Homo sapiens: one gene and its partner. The protein of the gene in region 1 purifies or fractionates together with the protein of each later gene. This does not show direct contact. Each region holds a gene or a part of one and is shown on either strand. Other genes may lie near its edges.

Region 1 (3,654 bases):
TAGACATGATCCCAGATCATCTACTCAAGCCTCACCCACTCTGTCTTTTCAAATCCCTGCTGGGACTTTTTTTTTGAGATGCGGTCTTGCTGTGTTACCCAGGCTGGAGTGCAGTGGCATGGTCTGGGCTCACTGCAACCTCCGCCTCCCGGGTAGGTGGGACTACAGGTGCGTGCCACCATGCCCGGCTAATTTTGTATTTTTAGTAGAGACGGGGTTTCACTGTGTTGACCAGGCTGGTCTCAATCTCCTGACCTCGTGATCCGCCCATCTCGGCCTTCCAAAGTGCTGGGATTATAGGCATGAGCCCGGCCGGGACTTCTTAATACCCCCAGTGACAGCATGCGCAGAGCATCACTGTTTTGAAATTTTAGAATATTTATTAAGCTTAAACCTATTTTCCCACAACTTTTACCTGTGGGTGTTAGTCTTGTTTTCTGGAGGTTGTGTATCGCCTGTCTTCCTCATTAAACAGCTTACTTTCTTTTTAACTGTTCCTTTCCACATGCGAACTTCTGGTGTGTCCCAGGCCCTCTCATTGAACCTAGAACTGAGCGTCATACACTATTTTAATTGTCTTAGTGTGGGGTCTGTAAGTGAATTCCAAGAGAATTTGGATTCTCTAGGTCTGCTAGTGCAGGCCAGGATTTCACCAGCTTTTTAGGTGGTTTAAGAATTAGAACTTGTCATGGAGTGTATGACTTCCAAACTCCGGTAGCTTTCTAAATTATTACAAGATTTGATGAATGAATTTAAATGTGAATGTATTTATTTTTGAATGTCATTGTGGATATACATGGTAATTTAGGAAACTTGAAACAAGAAGTGACCAGGATACGTCAGTGATGGGGTCATATAATGGGAGACCCGGGAGGTGTGACAGAAGGAAGTAGTTTCTTTTTTTTTCTTTTTTTTTTTTTTTTTGAGATGGAATCTCGCTCTGTTGCCCAGGCTGGAGTGCAGTGGCATGATCTTGGCTCACTGCAACCTCTGCCTCCCGGGTTCAAGCTATTCTCCTGCCTCAGCCTCCTGAGTAGCTGGGATTACAGGCATGCGCCACCACACCGGGCTAATTTTTCTTTTGTATTTTTAATAGAGATGGGGTTTCACCATGTTGGTCAGGGTGGTCTCAAGCTCCTGACCTTGTGATCCGCCTGCCTTGGCCTCCCAAAGTGCTAGGATTACAGATGTGAGCCACCACGTCCGGGCTGGAAGTAGTTTCATGTCTGATCCCAGCTCTGCAGCTAGCTTTTGGACTGTGGACAAATCCTTTCACCTGTCAGGTCAGCTTTCTTATCCATAAAATGAGAGGATTGGATACATCAGAATCACCTGAAACTTGTACACATATCTAGTCCTAAACACTGAGATTTCTGATTCATTCATTTCCAATTCATTCTGATTGATTAGGTCAAGAAAGGCCATTCAGACAATAGCATTTTAAAAGATAAAGGCATCCCAGTTTGGTATTCATCGGCCCCTGTGAGAAACATTTGTTAGGAATGTGTCAGAGTTCTCCTTCTCCGGACTGAGTTTACTGAAGTTACGTTTTTGTCCTCAGATTACTTCTTTCCTATCCCTCCTTTAGTGTGACTTTGGAAAATCTCCTTGAAGGTCTTTGAGTCCCATTTCCTTCATGTATAAAACTTCTCCAAGTTATTAAGAGGGTGAAATGACAGAATGTATATAAAGGCAAACTTCCTGCTGCATTGCAGGCCTGCAATCACTGATGATTTTTCTCCCTTCTCTTTTCTACGCTGTAGCTTTTTATCTTTCCAGTTGTTAGATGCCTAATCTTCCCTGTTCACTTGCTCCTCCTTCCTGCAACACTCTTGTGTATATTTCCTTGATCATTGCTATCATCTTTCTCATTTTTATATGGTATCTGTAGAGAACACAGAACTCTGAATTCTTTGCTTGGGCCTCCTGGGGCTTTTCTGGTAGTGTCATTTCCCTTTCTGTGCAGTAGGATTGATGGGCATGCCTAAAAGACTTGGGATAAGCAATCCTCCCTTTTCTTCCCTAGACATCTCCAGTTACAGCCCGAACACTGGAAACTCTGATTCGACTGGCCACAGCCCATGCGAAGGCCCGCATGAGCAAGACTGTGGACCTGCAGGATGCAGAGGAAGCTGTGGAGTTGGTCCAGTATGCTTACTTTAAGAAGGTGAGGATTCAGATGCCTGGGCATGAGAGGATCTCCTGGATATATTACAGATGCATGGGCTTCCCAGCCTTCCGTGGCTGACGGCTACATTTGGATTGTCAACAGAAAGCAGTATTTGTCTTCCAGTCATCAGTCTGCCTCACTCTTTCCTCTGAAACACTCAGTGATTCTCAACCCTGACTGCACCAGAGAATCAGATGGAAAGCTTTAAAATGCTGATTCCAGGGCTCCTAGAGATTCTGGTTTAGTTGATGTGCTGTACTTTCAGTTAGCTGCTTCTCTGTCTACCCCTACTTCCTTTGCATCTTAAAAAAAAAAGTAGGTGTTTTCAAAAGAGCTACCTTGGTAATCTTCCTTGTCCCACTCTACCTTTCCTCTTGGTAGTCTCTTCAAATGTCCCATTGGCACCTCAGAAGCTCATGTTTAAAGTTGAACTCTCAAACTTGCCACTCATCCTGTTTCCCTATTTCTGTTTGTGACATTGCACCTCTGTCATTTTAGATATCAAGCCTCAAAGCCTAGACTCCCTTTTCCTAGTTGCCCACTCCCACCCCAGTCTGGTGAATGTTAGCCTTTTGGGGTTGAGTTGTGAGTCTAATAAACTCTTCCTTGCTTTTTGCTAGGTTAAGGGTTGAGTTGTGAGTCTGATAAACTCGTCCTCACTTTTTGCTAGGTTAAGGGTTGAGTTGTAAGTCTGATAAACTCTTCCTCGCTTTTTGCTAGGTTAAGGGTTGAGTTGTGAGTCTGATAAACTCTTCCTCGCTTTTTGCTAGGTTAAGGGTTGTCTTGGATTTCAATTAGACACCTGATTTATAAGGAAATGGATTGTTTTCACTTAACCATTATGGGCTAGACATTTGTTTCTTTATTCAGTAAACATTTATTGAGTACCTACTATATAAACAGCATTTAACATACTTCCCAGCATTTTGAAAAGATGGGTAGCAGTCTCTACTTCTGCCCCTGGTCCTGGGACTTAGGGACAAGAGGAGCTAGGTAAACCATTGGAAACATGGAAGTCTTTCCTGCTTATGATGCAGAAGGGACTGGGAGTTCTTGATGCAGTTCCCCTGCATCAGTGACCCCTCTAGCCCAGCCACACTTGCCTTGGTCTTAGGTTCTGGAGAAGGAGAAGAAACGTAAGAAGCGAAGTGAGGATGAATCAGAGACAGAAGATGAAGAGGAGAAAAGCCAAGAGGACCAGGAGCAGAAGAGGAAGAGGTAAGGTGGGGCAAGCAAATGAGATTAAAAAGTTAGTGGCCAAGAAGTTGGGGGTGCACGCCTGTAATCTTAGCAATTTGGGAGGCCGAGGCGGGTGGGTCACTTGAGTCCAGGAGTTTGAGACCAGCCTGGGAAATATGGCAAAACTGTCTCTACAAAAAATAGAAAAATTAGCTGGGCGTGGTGGCGGACACTTGTGGTCCCAGCTGCTCGGTAGGCTGGGGTCGGAGGATTGCTTGAGCCTGGGAGGCAGAGGTTGCAGTGAA
Region 2 (3,654 bases), about 17 Mb from region 1:
AGTGGCTCATGCCTGTAATCCTAACACTCTGGGAGGCCAAGGCAAGAAGACAGCTTGAGCCCAGGATTTTAAGACCAGCTTGAGCAACATAGTGAGACTGTGGCTCTACAAAAAAACTTAAAAATTAGCTGGTCATGGTGATGCATACCTGTAATCCCAGCTACTGTGGAGGCTGAGGTGGGAGGACTGTTTGTACTTAGGAGGTCAAGGCTGCAGCATGCTGTGATTTCACCACTGCATTTCAACCTGAGCAACAAGTAGGACCCTGTCTCAAAAAAATATATGAAATACAAATAACCAAAATGTCAGTAATTAATGAATCTGGGGAATGGGTACATGGAGGTTCATTAAAGAATCTGGAGAGGAGGTATATGGAACTTCATTAGACAATTCTCTACGATTCTGTGTATGTATGCAACTTTCATAATAAAAAGTCTAAAAAGGTCTACTTACAGGTATACTTTTTAAATCCTATCTTCAGTTAAGGCTGACCATTCTAAACAAAATTCTGGCAGATACTTTTCAAAGAATGTTTTCTTCATTCTCGACTGATCAATTAAACACCATAGTGAAATGGACCATAAAAGGGGAAAAGGCCTATTCTGTCATTTCAGAGAAATATGAACATGTTTATTACATGGAAGAAGTTAGTCCTTTTATCCATGTTGATTGATATCAGACATCTGTCATTCTTCAAAGAATTATGTTTTTGTTGAAAAATATATAAGTTAAATGAGTAAAGAAAACATGGCATACACACACAACGGAATACTACTCAGCCATAAAAAAGGAATGAAATAATGTCTTTTACAACAACTTTGATAAAGCTGGATACATTATTCTAAGTGAACTAACTCAGGAATGGAAAACCAAATACTGCATGTTCTCACCTATAAGTGGGAGATAAACTATGAGTACACAAAGGCATACAGAGTGATATAATGGATTCTAGAGACTCAGAAGAGGGCAGGGGAAAGGAATAAAAAACTACATATTGGGTAAAATGTGTATTACTCAGGTAACAGATGCACTAAAATCTCAGAATTCACCATGATATAATTCATCCATGTAACCAAAAACCACTTGTACTCCAAAGCTATTGAAATAAAAATATATTAAATTTAAAAACTTATAAATAAAAATATATAGGTCATATAACTTTATTATTTTCATGAGTAAAGGCAAAATAAATGTTTATGTTGAATATCAATGATTAATTTGTTGAAGCATCTGGTTAGCCCTCCAGTTACTTCAAACATCTTCTACTCGACTATATGACCAAATAAAACAACTTTCTGATGTAGATGGAAAAAAAAAAAAGATTTAAAAAAATGAACCAGGCCAGGCACAGTGGCTTATACCTGCAGTCCTAACACTTTGGGAGGCCAAGGTGGGAGGATCACTTGAGGCCAGGAGTTCAAGACCAGCCTGAGCAACACAGCAAGACTCTGTCTCTACAATTTTTCTTTAATTAGCCAGACATGGTGGTGCACGCCTATAGTCCCAGCCACTCAGGAAACTGAGGCAGGAGAATCATTTGAGCCCAGGAGTTCCAGGCTGCAGTGAGCTATGATCGCACTACTGCACTCCAGACTGGGCAACAGAATTAGACCCTGTTTCAAAAGAAAAAACAAAAAGAACCAATATCCATTAATTATGCCTAATACTAAATTGTAATGAACACATACTAAAAATTACATAAAATAAGTAGTAGAATTGGAAAGTTGAATTTTTTTAGCCATTATTGTTTAAGCTATGATTTAAATTGATTTAATCTAAATCAAATCACACTATTGAGGCTGTGGAAACATTAAATCTAGTAGACAGTGACAGATTTACCACTTACCAATGATCAAGAATAGTTTAGTTTACAAACACCAATGTCTTTCCTGCCTATGAAAAATAGCACCACCCAAAAACAACAACCAGATTTGTATGCCTCCTCTTCTTTGGCTAAGTTCTAGGATAGTAAAAACTGTTCATGTCTTTGCAACAGCTAGCACATTGTAGGTATACAACTCTTTTAACAGAAACAGTCACAACTTCCAATTCCCAGAAAGCTATTGCTAGGTTTCAGTCACATTCCCTAGGTGACATGTGTAGGATAACAAAATAAAGCAGGTTTGCCTTGTAGGCAGTTCTACCTTGAATCGTTTTGAGGATCCTGTTTCTTCTAACAGAAACATGTCATGAGTCTTTAGTGAAAAGCAGTATAAATACATATACATGAAGACAAAAGACAGCCAACGATTCTTTTTCTCATCATTATTAAACCACTGGTTAATTCCTAACTGAGGTATTTCATGTTTTTTAGATAACAAGATCATCCTCATTTTCAACACTTTTTTTAGCTTTCTTTCCTTTATTAAAGTAAAATTTACATACTATAAAATCTTAAGTTTGAATCAATATGTTTGAGTAAATGTATATAACAATTGGCAAAACTGGATAAAGGTATACGGAAGCTCTTTGTACTAGTCTTGCAACTTTTCTGTAAGTTAAAAATTACATGAAAACGAAGTTACCCAAAAAGTATATAACTGAATTACCATCACCCAAGTCAAGCTACAGAATATTTCCATCATGCCAGAAAGTTTCCTTGTGCTCCTTTCCAGTCAACCACAACCCCTACCCAGAGGCAACCACTGTCCTGATTTCTATCACCATACCTTAGTTTTGCCTGTTCTTGTATTTTTCATAAATGGCATCATAAACACTTATACATACTCATCTGTGCCTGGCTTCTCTTGCTATGAACAGTATTTCTGAGATTCATCTATGTTGCTATGTGAATCAGTAGTTTATTCCTACTGTGAAAAAAGCTGCTATGACCCAGTCTTTTTGTGGGCATATATACTTATTCCTCTTGGTACAATAAGATTTCACAGAAAAAAAGTTTCGCATATAAATATGCCTGGGAAATAAGGCAGTATAGATAGATACTGCTATACACACATAAAACATATAGCAACCATATATACCATTATATATAATGTAAAAAAGATATTTGATATTTATACATATGTGTAATATATGTGTAATACACACACATACATAAGCTTGAATAATTCTGATCACGCCACTGCACTCCAGTCTGGGCGATAGAGTGAGACTGTCTCAAAAAAAAGAATTTATAAAGTTCATAGTGAAAGTAAATCTAAGATGGGAAAGATGAGCATCTCAATTTTTCTAAGTTTATGTCTTAACCTAACAATAACTCAAAAGAGAAACAAGTATCTCTCCATGTAAATTACCCTGTTAGGTTTCAATGAAACACCTTTTCTCTTGTAACAAACATCTCCTCCAAGCTAGAATTTCAAAACAGTGTTACCATCCACTAGGTAATAATTTTTATGCTAGCAACAAAACCCAAAATATGTGTTCAGATTACAAGACTGTTTTTATTGTCTTGCTTTTTTAAAAAAGTTAAACATGGAAAAACTTAATTAATTAATATCTAACATGGGTAAAGAACATTCCATGCTCATTCAGAATATATTCTGATGCAGACTCAATCTCTAAGATGTTTTCTCCATTCCAAAAAGTAACCTATCGCAGCATTATGTCCATGACTGGGACATCTTGACTTTCAAATTCACTGTGCAATTTTCAGCTAACAATGGAGGAGGTTCTTTAGTTTCCAGAGATAGGAAC

Evidence for each region. Proteins that work in one complex are often made in the same cells at the same time.
Region 2: the proteins of MCM3 (region 1) and FKBP5 purify together in Homo sapiens (affinity purification with mass spectrometry; 2 studies listed by BioGRID and IntAct, with this or other methods). This does not show direct contact.

Annotation. Positions count from the first base shown.
Region 1 is NC_000006.12:52,267,599-52,271,252, reverse strand, and holds part of MCM3 (DNA replication licensing factor MCM3), read left to right. Parts: intron 1-2,026; coding exon 2,027-2,167; intron 2,168-3,246; exon of another isoform or gene 3,247-3,284; coding exon 3,285-3,388; intron 3,389-3,654. UniProt on the Homo sapiens protein: Acts as a component of the MCM2-7 complex (MCM complex) which is the replicative helicase essential for 'once per cell cycle' DNA replication initiation and elongation in eukaryotic cells.
Region 2 is NC_000006.12:35,678,810-35,682,463, forward strand, and holds part of FKBP5 (peptidyl-prolyl cis-trans isomerase FKBP5), read right to left. Parts: intron 1-3,654. UniProt on the Homo sapiens protein: Immunophilin protein with PPIase and co-chaperone activities. Component of unligated steroid receptors heterocomplexes through interaction with heat-shock protein 90 (HSP90).